Linked DNA regions of Homo sapiens: region 1 is linked to region 2. Evidence: fine-mapped expression QTL. A gene starts in region 2. The other region holds a variant in brackets. All regions are shown on one strand. Distances are between the middles of the regions. Region 1 overlaps ACIN1 (apoptotic chromatin condensation inducer 1). Region 2 holds the start of AP1G2 (adaptor related protein complex 1 subunit gamma 2).

What was found. PIP is the estimated chance that this variant, and not a neighbour inherited with it, causes the effect.
Region 1: its variant is fine-mapped to the expression of AP1G2 in T cells (TOPMed, PIP above 0.99).

Annotation. Positions count from the first base shown.
Region 1 is chr14:23,066,095-23,075,445 of GRCh38, reverse strand. It overlaps ACIN1 (apoptotic chromatin condensation inducer 1), which reads left to right. Exons shown (of 19, transcript NM_001386863.1): 9 at 5,829-5,970. Among named protein-coding and RNA genes, the nearest start is that of CDH24, 13 kb to the right of the region's middle. RefSeq lists enhancers at 3,993-4,062, 6,093-6,182, 6,263-6,312, 6,460-6,984. The variant T/C (reference allele first, on the strand shown) is at 3,981.
Region 2 is chr14:23,564,138-23,573,488 of GRCh38, reverse strand. It overlaps AP1G2 (adaptor related protein complex 1 subunit gamma 2), which reads left to right and starts at 5,698. Exons shown (of 22, transcript NM_003917.5): 1 at 5,698-5,750; 2 at 6,170-6,378; 3 at 6,803-6,927; 4 at 7,070-7,211; 5 at 7,329-7,425; 6 at 7,597-7,673; 7 at 7,788-7,883; 8 at 8,290-8,370; 9 at 8,829-8,927; 10 at 9,101-9,156; 11 at 9,330-9,351. The coding sequence starts at 6,175. JPH4 (junctophilin 4) reads left to right here. Exons shown (of 6, transcript NM_001146028.2): 4 at 1,569-1,687; 5 at 2,029-2,561; 6 at 3,772-5,451. The coding sequence ends at 3,855. It overlaps AP1G2-AS1 (AP1G2 antisense RNA 1), which reads right to left. Exons shown (of 4, transcript NR_110555.1): 2 at 8,649-8,762; 3 at 6,067-8,033; 4 at 5,413-5,800. RefSeq lists silencers at 4,507-4,606, 5,596-5,645 and enhancers at 6,126-6,365, 6,396-6,485.

The DNA.
Region 1 (9,351 bases), 500 kb after region 2:
CTGTTTCAGTTGAGTGCTGTTCAAAACTCTGGTCTTCTGCCTTGTATGGGTATAACAAAAATGTCCCCATATAGCAGAAAATAATGGTATTCTCTTTTTACTTAAAAAAAAAAAAAAAAAAAGGGGAAGAAAGAAAAGAGGGGATTTGTTTGTGTGGGCAGCTGTATCATTCAGCTGTAGTTAATTCAGACCTGGATTTCTCTAGATACAACCTTCCTGTATGCACAGACCTAGCAGGCAATAGCAGTTTTAGGCTCTTGGTACAATGCATGTTTGTCCTTCTGCCTGTGTAGGAGGAAGGTATTGGTTCCTTAAGCCAATATGATGGTGTAATTGATATTCCCCAGGGGACATACAATGCCAATATCCCAAATGATGCATGAAAAAGCAGAATTTGTTGTCATCAATAGAGTTTGCTCCACTGAGAAATTATCTAAGGACATATACCCCAAAATCATACTGTTCTAGGTTATCTTGGGACCAGTATGCTTCTGAGGGTATCTAGTCCCACTGTTTCTTATTAAATTTTCACGTCAGTTTTTCAGCTCCTCGTGAATTTTCTATAATAACTAAAATTTCAGCATATATGCCTATAGGAATTTCCTTTTCCATTAGCTTCTCTGAATCTCATATTCACATATGAGTTGTAATGTGATATTATTAGCCTCCAAGTAGTTGTACCCTTTTCTTCTGGGCTTCTTTGTGTACTGTTTACTTATGGGTAGATATCCCCACTGCTTATTCTGTGCAGTTTCACAGACTGTTAAGCTATGTTGGGCTCTGACACATGGTTAACAAGGTTTTGGTACTAGTCCTGCAAGTAGATAGAGTCCATTTTGGGGACAGTTTCAAGGATTCCTCTTTATCTTTTTTCTTTTTTGGAGACAGAGTCTCACTCTGTCACCCAGGCTGGAGTGCAGTGGCCCGATCTCTGCTCACTGCAACCTCCGCCTCCTGGGTTCAAGCAATTATCATGCCTCAGCCTCCTGAGTATCTGGGACTATAGACGCGGCTGCCACACCCTGCTAATTTTTCTATTTTTAATAGAGATGGGGTTTCACCATGTTGGCCAGGCTGGTCTCAAACTCCTGGCCTCAGGCAGTCCTCCTGTCTCAGCCTCCCAAAGTGTTGGTATTACAGGCGTGAGCCACCATGCCCGGCCCTCATTATTGTCTGAAAATAAAATGTTCGGAATTGTTGGGTCCCACAGAATTGATCATGGGGAAATAGAAAACACACGCCTCTTGTGTCTTAAGAGGGTAAAGGAGAACGTGGTAAGATTCTTATTCTTAAAAAAAAGAAATTTTCGGCCGGGCATGATGGCTCACGCCTGTGATCCCAGCACTTTGGGAGGCCGAGACGCGCGAATCACAAGGTCAGAAGATCGAGACCATCCTAGCTGACACAGTGAAACCCCGTTTCTACTAAAAATACAAAAAATTAGCCGGGTGTAATGGAGGGTGCCTGTAGTCCCAGCTGCTCGGGAGGCTGAGGCAGGAGAATGGTGTGAACCCCGGAGGCGGAGCTTGCAGTGAGCTGAGATTGTGCCACTGCACTCCAGCCTGGGCAACAGAGTGAGACTCCGTCTCAAAAAAAAAAAAAAAAAGGAATTTTCAATAACAAAATTTCTCAAAATCAGCCACTTCTGCAGAGGCATATTAGCAGCTGAGAGTATTTTAGGACAGTGGATAAACAGAGCATTTTATTTGAGGATGGCTGAAGGTAACATTTTCTGTGGTGTAACATTGTTTGTGGGGATTCTATTAAAAAAATTTTTTTCTTTTTTTGAGATGGAGTTTTGCTCTTGTTGCCCAGGCTGGAGTGCAATGGCACGATCTCGGCTCACCACAACCTCTGCATCCTGGGTTCAAGTGATTCTCCTGCCTCAGCCTCCCGAGTAGCTGGGATTACAGGCATGCACCACCACGCCCAGCCAATTTTGTGTTTTTAGTAGAGACAGGGTTTCTCCATGTTGGTCAGGCTGGTGATCCGCCCACCTCAGCCTCCCAAAGTGCTGGGATTACAGGCGTGAGCCACCATGCCCAGCCAAAAAATTTTTTTTTCAATAAGAAAACTTTTAGGTTAGCAAGCATTTAGTAAGTGTCCACTTGGTACCCACAATGACACCCTAATTCAGAAATAGTTAGGGAACATTACTTTGTGTTAGGCCCTGGGCTAGGGGCCAAGAGATGCAATCCCTACCCTTGAGGAATTATGCAGGGTAGAGATGGGGGGCAGATAAAGTAGCAGTTATTATACAGAGTGATAAGGGCATTGCTGAAAACCTGTCATGCCAATCACTGAATGGCTTTGCCTCAGAAAACAAGCAGTCTACTCTTTTGAGGAAACTCAGAGCCCCAGAGGTGGCATCAGATGAGATAATGGCCTATTAAGTGTGCATGTATTTTACATGTATCTGTACCTTCACTTGGGGTGTCCTCCAAGCCAGACTCTTAAGAGCTAACACTTAACTACACTGTTCCATGAAATAGGTATTGTCACTATGCCCACTTTGCAGATTACAAGACAGATATACAGAACCAGGAACTTGCCTACTATCACACAACTTTTAACAGAGTGGGGCTAGCCAGTCTGACTCCAGAGTCTTCACTCTTAACCCTGAGCAGACAGGGACCACTATGTGAAAGGAAACATTTAAAGTAATGTATAAATATGGCCACTTTAGCATGCAGTTGGCATTGTAAGTGTAAGATTTTAAGCAGCGGGGAGAAAATTTCATTCCTAGCTTAAAAGCTCAAATGTTACACGAGACACTGAGCTTTGGTTCTCAGAAGTTTATCTTAGTGTAAACTTCTACTGCCACTAGGACACAAAAGGAACATCTCTGCAGTCAACAAATAAGCATTTTGAGTATCTACTGAGCACTTTTTGAACTATTAGCATCTGTTTCCCACTTTGGTCTAGTGAAGATTCCCATGATTAATATTTTCTGCTTAGTTCCCAGTCGCTTTCTGCCCAGCTGATCTTCCCCGCCCCATATAGCAGCACTCTCACTTCACTGTCTTATCTACTTTAGAGCCTCACCTTGGAGCCCTTGCTTCAAGAAGTGGCCTTCAAGCTTCAGCTACCCAAGGTCCCCTTGCCCTGTTTATCCTTTCTTTTTCTGGCCCGAGTGGACCCTGGGGCAGGGTGACCTTATTAAAGACTCTATAAAACAAAGTTGTCTGTCATCTCTTCAGAGACACCAACCCTGCCCCCCTTCTACTGGTATTTGAAAAAAGAACTCTCCCTGCTATCCACTTCCCTCCACCATCCCTGGGAAAAGGACATGTTGGAGTAGTAACACGTGGTCATTGCCGGGGTGAGCAGCCAGTTACTGTAGTGATTGGATAGTGACAATTCCCATCCCACCTCCCTACCTGCAGCATCTGACTGGTTGGTCTGGTTTCAGTGTTCCATGCCTAGATTACTGGATAGAGGATGGTAGGCACATAAAACATTGCTCATGCCCCACCCTCTATCCAGCTTTCATTACCATCCTTCTTTAATCACTTTTCAACTTTGGCTTTATCGTTCTTATTTAATCCTTTTTCACTCCCACCTCTACTGTTTGCCTGCCTTCTATTCTCTCTATTTTCTAGAATCTTCCAATCAAGCAGCTGTAACTTTACATGTCCTCCACCCAGCCCCCTCCCCTGCCCCCTGGGAAGACCAGGAGGGAGCACTCCAGCCCTGGGGGGTTAAGCCTCTGTAGCTGCTGTAACTTGAGAAAAGAAGGCCAGGCCTCTGGAGCCAGCAGTCGGCTCCCTGTGGCCTGCCAAAGGATAAGAACCTTGCTCACTCAGCTCCCTCCCTCTTTTCTTTCCCCTCCCCTGCTGCAGCAAGGCCCTCCCCCATCCGCACACACAGGCTGCTGGGTAAGTGGCAAGATGGCTCCCCTGCATGTCTCCGGCTGATCGCTGCCGCTCCGCCAATACAATAGAGCCAGCCACTACCAGCAGCCTGGCCCTCTTCCTCCT[T/C]CTCCAGAGAGACCAATCCAGCCGAACTCGGGGTTTGCCGTGAGGACTTAACGCTTATCTCTTAAAAGCCAGATCTGTTTTAGCCTCCCCGCACCACCACCACCTCCCCTTCCATTTACCATTTTTTGGATCCCCGGTTGCTACATCTCAATTTTCTCTCTCTGGATCGGGTGGCTGGGGAGGAGGTGGTGGGATCTTGGAACAAGGAAGGTGTGGTTTTTTTTCTTTATTTTTTTTAGGATTTTTTTTGTTTGGTTTTTGTTATTTCTTCCATTCCAGAAAGGGATAAACAGCACTTCCAGGGGGAGAAAAAAAATCATGTTATCAGAAAGCAAAGAAGGGTGAGAGCTTCACATTTCCATGTATGCCTTTTCCCCGCCGCCCTAGCTCCCTTCGTCTTCCTTCTCTTCCTCATGGCTTTCATTCCGTCTTTCGTTTTGGTTTGTTTTCAGTCATTCTGCCTTCCCCCTTTGTCCTGCCTGCCCAGTTTCTAATTGGCCCCACATGCCCTTTCTGTATGGGAAATAGATATTTTTTTTGTATAAGCCTTTTCTCTAGATGTAAGCAGCTAAATCTCGTGTTTCTCTGGGGGCCTGTTTAGCTGGGGGCACAGTTCCGATTTTCCCCTCCCCCTAACCCCCCTAGTGCATCCCTTCTTGACTGCTCTAGGGAGGTTCTTCTGACCTCTGAGTGTCAGTCAGTCAGCCTGTTGGGAATGCTGACTTTTCTGGTGGTGGTTATCGGCCTGGGAGGCTTGGTTTCCCCTCTCCTGAGCCTTAGGCCTCTGATCATCTTGATTTGATTTTTTTTGCTTGGTGTTTGGGTGGTAGAGGGGGTGAGATTTGAGATAGAAGTTGGGGACGAAGACAGAAATCAAAGGTGGAAAGATAGTTTATCTGAAGTGAATCTCTGGGATTCTTTGCCTGAAATGGGAGCTAACTTGTGAGATTAAGAGTGGGAGAGTGGGTTTGGTGTTCTTGGGGGAAGCTGCCTGTGTGGGGGAGGGTGTGTCCTGACTAGGAGGCCTGCTCTCTTTATCTCTTGGAAGTTGGAATGAGGGAGTGGGAGAAACTGGGTGAAAGCCGAATGTAGGAACAGTTTCTACACCTCTGAGCAGGTAAAAGTGGCCCTAATCTCTGAGCTCTCATACTCAATTCAGCAGTTTTAATTTTTCCTTTTGAATGAGAGAGGGTCCTTGAAGCTTGAACCTTCACCAGGCCTGCTTCTTCCCTGCAGCTCCCACCCCCCGCCCCGCACCCCCCACCCCCCACCATTTTCTCCATGCTGGTGTCTCCAGATCCTGAGGATCAGCAGGCCTTTACTTATTAAGCAGTTGATTAAACACAGGTCAGGCTTTTTTGCCAAAGCCTTGGCCATTCTTTCTTGTCTTTTTAAGGGAATCGGGCTTCCCTTCGTTTCTCGTGCAATTTTGCCATATAAAGGTGCCTTTGGCCAGGGAGACTGAGGCCACAGGGTTGTGGGCAAATCACAGTCACTTTTGTGGGACTATTTTCAGAGGAGGGTTTTTCTCCTTTCATATAGGAGTACTCTGGTGAGTTATTACCTGAGAATAGTTGGAGTCCTAACCCCACAAATGACAACTTTTAACTCATCTGGGCAATAGGTGGATGTGGTTGCTGTGATCCACGCTCTTTCCCCAAGGAAAATCTATTTCCCACTTTTCCCATTGGGACAAGGTCTCTAACCTTGATCAGAAAAGCAGCCCTCCTAATCCCACCCAAGTGATGAGGCAGGAGGGTTTCCTGACCCAGTAACTAACATCTTGCTCTCTCTTCCCCTTGGTTCTTTTCTGCCCGCCCCCCCACCACCACTCCCCCCTCCTGTCAGTGAGGAGAAGGAGGAAGTGACCATGGACACAAGTGAAAACAGACCTGAAAATGATGTTCCAGAACCTCCCATGCCTATTGCAGACCAAGTCAGCAATGATGACCGCCCGGAGGGCAGTGTTGAAGATGAGGAGAAGAAAGAGGTAAACATCCAAGCCACCTATTGGGGCGGGTGGGCAGGAATGGACCTAGGGGAAAGAGTAGAGCACTCTAGTGATCCCTCTTACACGGTGGGTTAACTTAAAGGAGGGATGAGGCAGGGACTTGGATCAGAATAGGGCCAAGGGAGAATTCGCTGGTTTAGCAAGGGAGACCCCTTGTGACGGGGACAGGGCTCATTCATTTTCCTTTCCTTGTTGGGGAAGTAGTGCCCAGACTCTAGACGTTTGTAACTAACGGGAAAGTCTGATAATGGCCCTTTATCTAAGATTTATGTTCAGCTTTTCCTGCTGTCTTCCCAAGCTTCTCCTGGTGGTAACTCCTTTAGCTTTCCCTCCTTTTTAAAAGCCTGATGGAGCCCAACGCCATCTAGTGGACATTGGTGGTTCTCACCAGACCAGCCATGCTGAGAAATTTTTGTTCCTCCTCTGCCCTCCAGTGGTCTGACTGCAGAGATGTAGCTACTTAGAAGCCAGCACTTGTGATCCGGAAGGCCCATTCTCAGTTACCTGTGACCCCTCTACCTCCTTTTTTGGCATATGTTATCTTGTGTCCTGCACCCACTTCAGGGGGCTTCCCCCATCAGAGCCAGCGAAGTCTTCTTGGCTCTTAAAGTAATTGAGAAAGAATGAGCTGGGTTTAGGAGAGGGGTAACAAGGTGGGAGGGACTGTTGTGTGTGTAGCCTTTTTCTGGTGTGTGTTGCGGGGGTGGGGGCCGGTGAAAGTGATTTGATGTGCAGAATATTATTTATTACAAGGTCCTTCTTCCCCGTAAAACTTTGTCCAAGTACCTCATGTACGGTAATCCGCCCGTAAAATATAACCCTGCCCAACTGGCCAATCGCTGATGCCGCCTCTTCCTCTGGACCCACCCGCTGCTACTGAGCTGCCCAATCAGAGCCAAGTCTGCTATCCAGGTGTCTTGGCCAGAGGGGGGCATGTATATGGGCTCCTGTGATGGGCCCCCTTTTGCCTCCCTGTCTTGCTTACATCAGGGGGCCAAGAAGAACACTGTTCTGGAGAGACTTGTATTGAGCAAGCAAAAAACATTTGGAAAGGGGTGGACTTGCATCATCTCCCTACTTGGGACACCCCAAGAAGAGCTTGTGCCAGTGCTGGGGCGCCTGCCCACATGCCCTTGCCCTTTTGAGGACTGTGGGTTGCCTTGTTTGCTACAGACTGTTGGGATCCCCATCTAGGGCACCAAGACCTCCTAAAGTTTGTGATCGCAGTGCCATGCTGTAAAACACTGAGTGGGACCCTCTACTTAAGCTGTGACGACTAGGAACCGTGCAGAGGAGTCTAGGGTCTGAGCCCCTGGGGATTTAATGCTGATGACAGCCCAGCCCATGTGTCACCACTTGCTCATCAGATGGACTTTCCTTTGGTCCCTGTTGTCCATGGTGAAGGGCAGCATGTTGGTTGCTCCAACTTCTCCTCCATCCCTGGAGGCAGGGACTCATTTCATCCACCTGACTGGAACCACTGTCTCAGCTGGAGTCCCTGAGGAGATGCCAGCCACAACTCTCCGAAGAGAAGTATTCTGACCTTGCTGCTGAATGTCTGCCAGGTCCTGGGGTATTCACCTACCCCCAGGCTACCTTCATCAGAGGCTCCATGATCCCACTCGGTGAGAGGACCCCCTCCCCAGTTACAGGCAGAGGAGAAAGGGACTCTGGAGTCATCACCTGGATTCCAAGTATTGGGTGGTGTTATTGCTGCAGCTTGCCACTGGTGGACATAGGGTCCTGCCTGCCTCTCACGATAAAAGGCAAGGATCATTCCTGCTACTCACAGGCCATCTCATCAGGGACTGCAAGATGATGTCCCTTCAGGGCCAGGACTGATGTCTCTGCCCCTTTCCCCCCTCTATCCCTCGCTGAGCCTGGCCACCGCCAGTGAACTGTCTTGACATCATGGAAACTGGGCAGCGTCCCCCCACACGTTTCCCTCCCGCCCCCCCTGCGCCCCTGGGAGGACTCTGGCAGTGCCGTGCTGACTACCACGCCGTGCGCCCACCTTTTTTGCCAACCCAACCCCCCACCAATTGCACAGCGCCTAGCAGGGAGGGCTCATTCTGATTGGACCGGCGGTTGACTAGATACAGTACACAGTGAGGTGCGATTGGCTGAACTGAAGATCCCAGGTGTGAGATGGTACCTGGAACATTTGTCATATTCCTAGTTTATTTTCTTCTTTATTTTCTTCTTCTTTTTTTAATATTTTATTTTATTTTTTTCTATATCTTTATTTTTTCTGATTTCTTTTATTTATTTATTTGGTTCATGTTTTTCCTGTTTTAATTAAGACCTTTTTTTTTGTTTTGTTTTTCTCACTAACTTACCCATCGAGAGCGGCCCAGCTAGGGGTCAGGCTGGCCCTTAACAGAGACCAAGGAGACTTGGTTAGACGACACAAACGGGGCTGCGGGTGGGGGTGGATGGGAAAGGGATTTCATCACGAGGTTTCTGCCCTACCCTTTAGAAGAGTGGTAGAGTGGTCTTAGTTTTTCCAGAAATAAGCACCTACACTTGAAAATACTCTATTCCCTTTTTCTCTCTCACTTTTCTCCCCCGCCCCCCATAGTCTTTCGTCATTCACCCACTGAGTGTTTGGGGTAGAGACTTGTCCCAAAGATGTCTTCTGGTCTTTGGCAGAGCCCCTAAGGCTTGAGCCCTGGTTGGAGAGGAAACAGTAAGACTCTGCTGGAGCTCCCTGCGGTGGCTGGAAAGTCTAAGGATCTCCTTGGGGACAATCTGCCCTTCATAAAAACCTTCCTTTATCAAAGACACCTTTGAGTTCTTTTTGCTAGCACTTGGCTCAAGAGCCTCATCTCCAGTGGGTCTGGTGCTGCCCTTTTCCACAGTGTGGTGGGGGTCTGGGCAGTCTTGACATGACAGTCTGCTGTCCAAGCATCTCAAAGCCATTGTCAGTGGGCATCAGTCTGGCCATTGAAGAAAGGAGGGTTACCTTGTTGAAGTTGCCATCCAAAGTTGGTTTTCCTTGTTTCCTCGAGTTAGCAAGGAAGGACCTGGGAGGACTAGATGACCCAGTTTGGGGCACAGTTTGTTTGGCTTGGTGTCCTCTCGACTCAGACGGTGAAAGAGGGGGTATGACCAACATCTTTAGGGGGCTGAGAGGCTACTGAACTCCTCTTCCAGCTTATTTCTGGTTAAGCTAATACACAGGTGTGATACGGAGTAGATGACTTTTCCCTGCTCTGATGTTTAGTTTTATTTTTTTCTCTAACTTGCATTGATTCTGCTTCGTTTTTGCCGTTTGCCGCTTCTGTTTTGGTCTCTGTCTGTCTCTGTGTCTCTCTCTGTCTCTCTCTCTCACTCTATCTGTGTCTTTGGAGGCTAAGC
Region 2 (9,351 bases):
ACTCAATACAACCCAAGACCATGATCCTCACGCTCACGGCTCAACAGGTGCCCTTGACAGCCCTGTCCACCTTCTCCTTGACTTTGCCCCACTGAAGGGCCAGAGGCAGGAGACTGCACATGTGCCCGCTGTGCACCCTGAGTCCAGCTCAGTTTCAGGACAGGGCTAGTTATATACAATCTGAGAGTCCTAAGACAGAAGAGCCACGTTATCTGAGATCCCTCCAAATAGGCTCTAAAGATCTTTGACCCACCAGGTTTGAGGAGAAGGGGCTAATCACGGCTCCCAAAGAACATAAAGAAGAGGCTATGGACTAAGAATATGCACAGTAGATATCACCATCCTCTTCCCCACCCCCATACCAGACTGCCTTCCTGAGCCAGAGAGAACAGGCCTGTGGCCAGAGGAAGTCATGGGGTGTGATCAATTCAAGCCCATGGCAGCTCGTCGGCCTGCCTTTTCCTCAGCTCTTTTGTGCCCCACCCTCAGAATTACAGAACTCATTTAAGGATGACAAGGCATCTACGATTAACAGCAGAGGGTGAAAGGGAAGAGAAAACTGAGGAAGCATCTGACATCACAGGGAGAACTGAGAAGCAACAGTGGGGAAGGACTGATCAGACTCCCAGGCTGCCTGCACCTAAGGAGCAGGGAAGGTGGTAGGGGGTTGTGGAAGGGAGACTAAGGGTTTAGCCAGAAGTGTAGTTGCAATGGTGAGAAAGCATATTGCATGTTAGTAGGGAGAGGGGATGGGATCATTACCGAAAGGGGAGACCCACTCTCATTCCAGTTCCAGAGCTCAGGAAAGCATGACGGGGGGCAGTGGGGTGGTAGCAGTGACAAGAGGAAGAACAGTGTCATAACAGAAGAGGCTGAAGGAACGCAAGATAGGAAGTTCTCATGCCAGGAAATCTGTACGGGTAGAGGTAGGATTAATAGTAAGGAGAAGTGACAGTAGAAAGAGAAAGGGAGGCAGAGACTGTTAACATAAGGGAGACGGTGGCTCTGAACGAGGGGGCGGGGCAGGGGCGAAGCTGCTTGGAGGGGAGGATCAAGGTACAGGACCCTGTGCTAGACCCCACAGAGAGGCCTGTGACTCCAGGGGGGTGAGAGGGGTTAGTAACAACAGGAGGTGCTAACTGCAAAGAAGGTGGTAGTATAGCTCATAAGCACCAAGCAGGACTGCAGGGGATGTGCTAAAAGAGTGAGGTCTCGACTGTCACTGGGAAGGGGGCAGGATAGGAATGGAATTACACAGTTCCAGGAGGGCCTGGCCCTTGCAACTGGAAGAAGTGTTACTACAGGACGTAGCAGTAGAAGGGTGTGAGAGGAGCAGGAGGGTGTGATGGTGGCAAACACAGCCCAGGTCAGGGGGAGGAAACCAAACGGGAGCTGCCCTGGCCTGCCAGGAAGGGAAGCAGCTGGCAGAGTGTGGCGAAGGGTGACGACTCCAGAGGAGAGGAGGATGTGATGTAGAGGGGACAGGGGCTAGGGGGCTGGAGCATCTGAGCAGGGACTAACTTGAAGTGGGGGAAGTTCTGCTAAATCCCTGTCTCTGGACCCGACAGGGCAGCAGACGCCCTCCTAAAGGCAGTGGCAGCCAGCAGTGTCGCTGAGAAGGCCGTGGAGGCAGCTCGAATGGCCAAACTGATAGCCCAGGACCTGCAGCCCATGCTAGAGGCCCCAGGTGAGGCATGGACAGCTGGGGGGAGGGCAGTGAGGCCCCTAGGGAGCTAGAGAGGCTCAGGTGTGGGGAAACAGATGAGAAGCCCTGCAAGGGAAGTGGGGATGGGAAAAAACAAGGAATGAGGGTGCAAGGAACACAGGGTGGGGGCCAGACCTGGTAGTCTGGGGAGTGGGACTTGGGAATGTATGCAGTAGGATAATGGGGGGTTTGGGGTCTGGCGGTGAGAGGCTATGAGCCTGGGAATTCCAAAGTCCTGGGAAGTGCCCAGTCAGGAATAAAGCTGCAGCCACTCCAGCCCAAGGCCAGTTAGGCCCCTCTGATTCTCAGCTATCCCTACCCAGGCCGCAGACCCAGGCAGGACTCAGAAGGTTCCGACACGGAGCCCCTGGATGAGGACAGCCCTGGGGTATATGAGAACGGACTGACCCCCTCAGAGGGATCCCCTGAACTGCCCAGCAGTCCTGCCTCCTCCCGCCAACCCTGGCGACCCCCTGCCTGCCGGAGCCCACTGCCTCCTGGAGGGGACCAGGGTCCCTTCTCCAGCCCCAAAGCTTGGCCTGAGGAGTGGGGGGGGGCAGGCGCACAGGCAGAGGAACTAGCTGGCTATGAGGCTGAGGATGAGGCTGGGATGCAAGGGCCAGGGCCCAGAGACGGTTCCCCACTCCTCGGAGGCTGCAGCGACAGTTCAGGAAGTCTTCGAGAGGAGGAGGGGGAGGATGAAGAGCCCCTGCCCCCGCTGAGGGCCCCAGCAGGCACGGAGCCTGAGCCCATCGCCATGCTGGTCCTGAGGGGCTCGTCCTCGAGGGGTCCTGATGCTGGGTGCCTGACAGAAGAGCTCGGGGAGCCCGCTGCAACCGAGAGGCCTGCCCAGCCGGTGAGATCCTCTGTCCCTGCTGTGTGCCCTCTTCTCCCAAAGCCTTGCCTCCCACCCTTTCCAGAACTGTCTGATCACCGGGGGGGCTTTTTATCTCACTCGGCTTCCTCTGCCTGGCCAGTCTTGGACCACATCCCACCTCAAAAAAATAGAGGGCGTTCGAGCTGGAAGGAACCTTACACACCTGCAAGCCCAACTCCCTCATTTGACAGATGGGGGAACTGAGGCCCAGAGCACTTAAAGTAACTTGCCCAGGCCGGGCGCGGTGGCTCACGCCTGTAATCCCAACACTTTGGGAGGCCGAAGTGGGCGGATCACGAGGTCAGGAGATCGAGACCATCCTGGCTAATACAGTGAAACCCCGTCTCTACTAAAAATACAAAAAAAATTTAGCCGGGCGTGGTGGCGGGCGCCTGTAGTCCCAGCTACTTGGGAGGCTGAGGCAGGAGAATGGCGTGAACCCGGGAGGCGGAGCCTGCAGTGAGCTGAGATCGCGCCACTGCACTCTAGCCTGGGTGACAGAGCGAGACTCTGTCTCAAAAAAAAAAAAAAAAAAAAAAGTAACTTGCCCAGGGTTGTAAACTAATAATTAATGGGAGAGCCAGAACATTTTTCCCCCGTTCTCCTTCCATATCATTTCCAGCTCTCAGTTTCCTACTCCACCCCCACCCCCACCTCCGCACTTTCTCTCTTTGGTGCCCAGAAATAAAAAAGGAAAAGATTGTTCCCTCCCTACCCTGACTCTCCCTCCCTCTCCCGGGAAGAAGTTGAAATAGAGAAGAAGGCAGAAAACCGGGAGAGGCGGAGTTTGCCCAGAACCCTCTACTCTGATTGGGCTCTAGGCCTTCTGTTTCCTAGCAACCACATCCTCACCCCTTCATCCCTCTGCCTTACTGCAGTACTGGCTGCTGCTGCCAATGTCTGCTACTAAGGCCAGGCACCTCCTGCCTGGGACACATGATATGCTGATGGGAGGGGACTAGAGGGAGGAGGTGGAAGGGCTGTCCCTGCATTGAAGGTGTCAGAGGAAAGGTGGGGCCCTGCCTGGGAGAAGAGGGGGTTTTGCAATCCAAAACAAATGTTGGCGATCCCCCTGCTCCAGGCTGTGCAGGGAGGTGCCTGAGACCCTTCAGCTCTGCCACCTCAGTCAGGGCAGGAAGGTGGGCCCTGTCCTCGGGGACTGAGTCTGCTTCCCCCTCTGTCTCTCTAGGGAGCTGCCAACCCCCTGGTGGTGGGAGCCGTGGCCCTCCTGGACCTCAGCCTGGCATTCCTGTTCTCCCAGCTCCTCACCTGAGGCTACTTCCTGGCCTGGTTCTGGCTTTGGTTGCGTGCCTCTTCACCCCTTTGACCTGCCTTTTTTCTCTTCTCCTCTTCCTGGCTGTGTTTTCTCCTATCTTTCTTTCTCTTCTTCCTTTCTTTTCTGTGCTCCTTTGTTTTTTTCTCTCGCTTTTTCTTTCCCTGTCTTCTTTCAGATTATCTCATTTCTTCTGGATCTGTCTCTGTATTCCTCACTCCCTTCCCCATCCCAACCCCTTCTTTCTCTAGATTGTTTACATATGAAGGGCTTTTCTCTCTCAGAGTTGCTGTCTTCTCTGAGACACACAAATCTAAGTCAGACCATTGCTCCACGCCCTCCCACCTTTTCTTTAGACCTCAACTTCGCTGCGGGTGGGGGTTTGGTGTCCTAAGGAGACTCCTGGAAGCTGAATGGAGAGGAGGAAGAAAATGAAGAAGGAGTGATTGAATGTCGGGCAAGGCACTGGCTGAGCTGCTGTGGCTCCCTAGCCTAAGGGGCCTGCTGTCCCTCTGAGGCCTAGTGAAAAAGCTGCAGGAGGTGCATCCTCCACCTCTAATCTTGGAGGCTATTATCTTACCTCCAAGCACTGAGCTGGGTTACTGCCCAATTCCATCCTTCCCTGAAGGAGAGAAGGGAAGTGAAAAGTAGAGTAACTCCCCAGCATTTCCCTCTTTTTCTCCTCATCGGCCAGCCCCTCCTCCAGCCCCCTCTGGTGGCATGCCATGCCAAGAGCAACGTGTAAAGGAACAGAGAATATCCAATGCAGTCAAGTCCACCCTGCCCAGACTTTGCCACTGACTTCTCCCACCCTTCTGTCTCCCCCATAATAGTTTATTTGGTTGGTCTGGACTCACTTGTGGCCTTTGATTAAATTCCTAAGGGGCCTGAAGAAGACATTTCTACTGCAGAGGGTTAGAGGCACTTGAGCAAGGCCCCCACATCCCAACTCTGGGAGTTGTGGTGGGAGGAGGCACTTCTGGGGGATAGGACCAGACAAGATAACAGGAGCTCACATGGAAGCAGAAGCTGTGACAAGTTTAGTAGTCCCAAAATGGGTTATATCCCTTCCCCCTTTACATCAGAATCTTGTGAAATGGGAAAACAACAGAAGGAGGGGATCAAAGATAGCTGATCTCACATGCTTCCCAGGCAGGGCAGAGGTGGGAGTCAAACCCGGGTGACAGGTGGGTGGAGAGCCCTGTTTGAGGTTGTGGCTGATCCCTCTCTGGTATTAGTTTTTCCCCTGGGAGCAGGAAGCCCTAGGAAGAGGGGACTGCAGGGTCCCCAGGGGATCTTTCCTCCCTCCCCTGCATGAGGCAGAGGCAAGCTGCCTGCCAACCCCCTCCCTCAAGGAATGGCCTTGCCCAGGAATGCCCACCACACATACCCTCTTCTTTTTTTCTAGTCAAACTCTTGTTTATTCCTTGGCTTGCCTCCCTCCTTCCTCCCCTCTCAACCTTTACTTCTGATTTCTATTTCATGGAATTTGGGATTGAAGTTAAACTACAACAGTGCCGCCAACACCAAGTCTTGCAGGAAAAAAATACAAAGAAATTTAACAAAAAAAATATATTAATAAAAAAGTTCAAAAAAGGGGGGGGATTGTCATCTCCTTTGGGGTGCGATGGCTTCAAATCCAAACTGAGGCTCTCCGGGTGGTAAGGATGTGCGAGGAGGCCTCTTGAAGAACTCCAGGCCTATCATGCTGTCTCTCCGCTAAAGCCTGAGGCCCGAGGTCAGAGGATTCAGGAAGGCTCTGCAGTCGGCCCAGGAGGGCGGGGTCCCGTGGTGGAGGCGGGGAGAGGGAAGGACCGCACGGAGCACCAACCCCTGCTCGGCCCCGTACCAGGAAGCGCTGGGGGGCAGAGGAGCGGAGTTGAGGCAGAAGCCAGGTGAGGCTGGAGTCCTGGGGTAGGCAGGCTGTCGCTGCCGCTGCCGCTGCCTGAGATGGAAATCGGGGGAGGAAGCTCGCGGAAGAAACAGCGGAGGGTCGTGGAAAAAAAAGCAATGGCTGAGCTAGGGATGGGGTACCAGGTAGGGGGAGGAAACGGTAGAGAGAAATAGGTGGGGCTCCCGCGCATGCTCAATAGGAAGGGGCGCCGGTGGGGTGCGGACGCATGCGTAGTGGGCTTCTCGGGCGGTGGGGTGGGCGCGGAATTTGGAGACCCACTTCGGGAAAGGTAAAATGCGGGCGCAATTTTAGGGTACCTGTGGGACCCGGGCTCTTAGGGTCTTGACACAGGACGGGCCTGGGCCGAAAGCCCAGGCACGCCCGACCAGAGAGTGTTTCTCCACTCCCGGACTCTGCCAGTCAGGATGGTGGTGCCTTCGCTGAAGCTTCAGGACCTCATCGAAGAGATTCGCGGGGCCAAGACTCAGGCCCAGGAGCGGGAGGTGATCCAAAAGGAGTGTGCCCACATCCGGGCCTCCTTCCGCGACGGGGACCCAGTGCACAGGCACCGGCAGCTGGCCAAACTGCTCTACGTCCACATGTTGGGCTACCCCGCCCACTTTGGACAGGTACTGGCCAGGAATACCTCCCTCCTGAGCTTGATGAAGGCTAGTGGGGCAGAGTCCCAGACTCTCTCACCTGTTTATGCCCTGGTTTTTTAAATTCTACAATTTCAGAGTCTTCACAGCCTGCACTGCAAACCTCTTTCCCCATTGCTACCCCTACTGGTCATCAGCTGGCCTGAACCCTTCATTCTCTGGCCAGCCTCCTTTAGGGCAGGCATCTCCTCCTCTCCGCTCCCATCCTCCTCAACTCCTAGTTCCTCCTACCCACTAACGCCTGAATTTCCTAAGCTTCTCCTCTTGTTGAAGGGAGAGTGATGAGATATGATGCCCCACAGGTTAATCTGGTTTTAAAGAGGAAGATGGAACAGGGATGTGAGTGTCTATGGTTTCACCCCTGCCTCTTCCTGGTCTGCCCCCTTCACTATAGATGGAGTGCCTGAAACTGATCGCCTCCTCCAGATTCACAGACAAGAGGGTGGGCTACCTGGGGGCCATGCTTCTATTGGATGAGAGGCACGATGCCCACCTGCTCATTACCAACAGCATCAAGAAGTGAGAGGGTTCTGGCAATCACTTGGAATCAGGGAGATGGGAGAGTAGGGACCTTGGAAATCCCAGGGGACTGCCTGTTGTGGGTATTGAAAAGGACTGATTTTCTCAGAGGTTTGACTGACCGTCCTCCCAAACCCTGCAGTGACCTGAGCCAGGGGATTCAGCCAGTACAAGGCCTGGCCTTGTGCACTTTGAGCACCATGGGCTCTGCTGAGATGTGCCGAGACCTGGCCCCAGAGGTGGAGAAACTGCTCCTGCAGCCCAGTCCCTACGTGCGCAAGAAGGTGAGATGGCGGGACTCCTGGCACGTGCTCCTGCACACTGCCTGCTGCGTGCTATATAGTAGTAGATGCAGGGGTCCATCTCCTCTGACCCCTGTCTGAGGCCCCTGACCTCTGCAGGCTATTCTGACTGCAGTGCACATGATCCGGAAGGTCCCTGAACTCTCCAGTGTCTTCCTCCCACCCTGTGCCCAACTGCTTCATGAGCGTCACCATGGTAAGGCTGTGGGGCCCCCCATCCTTTGCTTCAGGTCTATGGACAGAAGAATTGAAAATCGGATGGGAACCCCAGCTCACAGGAGAAGGGTAGTGCACACACACAGGCACACACGCAATAGACTCTCTTGCCCCTGGCCCCCACCATTCACTTCCCCGACGCTGACCCCAGGCATCCTGCTGGGCACCATCACGCTGATCACGGAGCTCTGCGAACGAAGCCCTGCAGCCCTCAGGCACTTCCGAAAGGTGGGCTGGTGAAGGGGCAGGCCCTGGGCCTGGAAGACAGGGTCAGTGGGGAAGGAATGGGGCTTTAGCTGGAGAGGATTAGAACGAATGCCCAAAGTTGTGCCCTCCCTCCAGGTGGTACCCCAGCTGGTACACATCCTCCGGACTCTGGTGACAATGGGATACTCCACAGAACACAGCATATCTGGAGTCAGCGACCCCTTCCTGCAGGTGGGGTGACCTTTCACTGCTGTATCCCTGGATCAGAGAGGGCATAGCAGTAAGACCATGACCAGTGGTTTCCTCCCAGAGAACACTGGTTCTCTCAGTGTCCTGGGCAGCAGAGTAGCAGGCACAGGATTGCTCGGGTCATCCCAGGACCTGTGAGGGGAGAGGGAATGCCTAAAAGTCAGGAAAATACAGTTTGTTAACAATTTTTTTTTTAAGCCTGTCCTAAACTCCCCTGGCCTCACACACCTCTGTTCCCCTCCTAGGACCAAGGGACCTGTGGAGGTGAGGAGGTGGGGGAAGGCTCTAGGGAGCGAGCCAGACCCTCACATGTTGGAGTTTTCTCCTCAGCCCCACGACTCCTTATCCTATGAACCCCTCCAACTTTCCATTTTCAACCCAACCTCAGGTCCAGATACTTCGTCTGCTTCGGATCCTGGGCCGGAACCACGAGGAGAGCAGTGAGACCATGAATGACTTGCTGGCCCAGGTGGGGCCTGGGAGGGCACTGGTTAGCTGTGTTGCTTGGAGACCCCATCAGCCCTGGGTGCCCCTCACATGACTCGTCACTGTGCAGTGGCCGTGTAATTGCCTCTCCATCTCCTCTAGACAGTGAACTCCATGAAGAAGGGACACAGTCTGTCTTAGTGCTATTGCCCCAGTGCCCAGGCTGGCCCTGGCACATAGTAGAGCCTCAGGGAACTTTGTTGGATGGTTGAAGGATGGACAGATAACATGTTGGAGTCCTTCAAGAATCCTGAGGATTACCTGGGCTTGTTGGCATGTGCCTGTAGTCCCAGCCACTCAGGAGGCTGAGGCAGGAGGATCATCAGAGCCTGGGAGGTCAAGGCTGCAGTGAGCTTTGGGCGACAGAGTGAGACCCTGTATCAAAAAAAGGAGACCTGAGGAGGGCCTTGAGCAGATACATCTCCTCTCTCATCCACTCAGGTGGCCACTAACACGGACACCAGCCGAAATGCCGGAAATGCGGTCCTGTTTGAGACAGTACTCACCATCATGGATATCCGCTCTGCAGCTGGCCTACGGGTATCACCCCTTATGCCTCTCCCACTACGGCCCCGCCCACCACCTCACCCACACAGGTCCTGCTTGCTGGTTTCTCCCTCCTAGCCCCATCATCTTGCGCCAATGTGTTCCCAGTCCTCAATGGCTGAGCAGGTTGCTCCTTTCCGACTGACCCCAACTTCTGCCTCTCATAGGTTCTAGCTGTCAACATTCTTGGTCGCTTCCTACTCAACAGTGACAGGAACATTAGGTAATAGTCCCAACTGTCTACCTAGGCTGTGCCACTGATCCCCTGGCCCTCTGCCCTCCTTCCTCCAGAGCCTCCTGATCCATTTCTCTCTTATCTTATCCCTATACCCAGGACAGGACGGGGAGTGGGGGCTGATGGCCATGGTATGATAGAACCTCCCCCATCCTGACCAGGTATGTAGCCCTGACATCACTG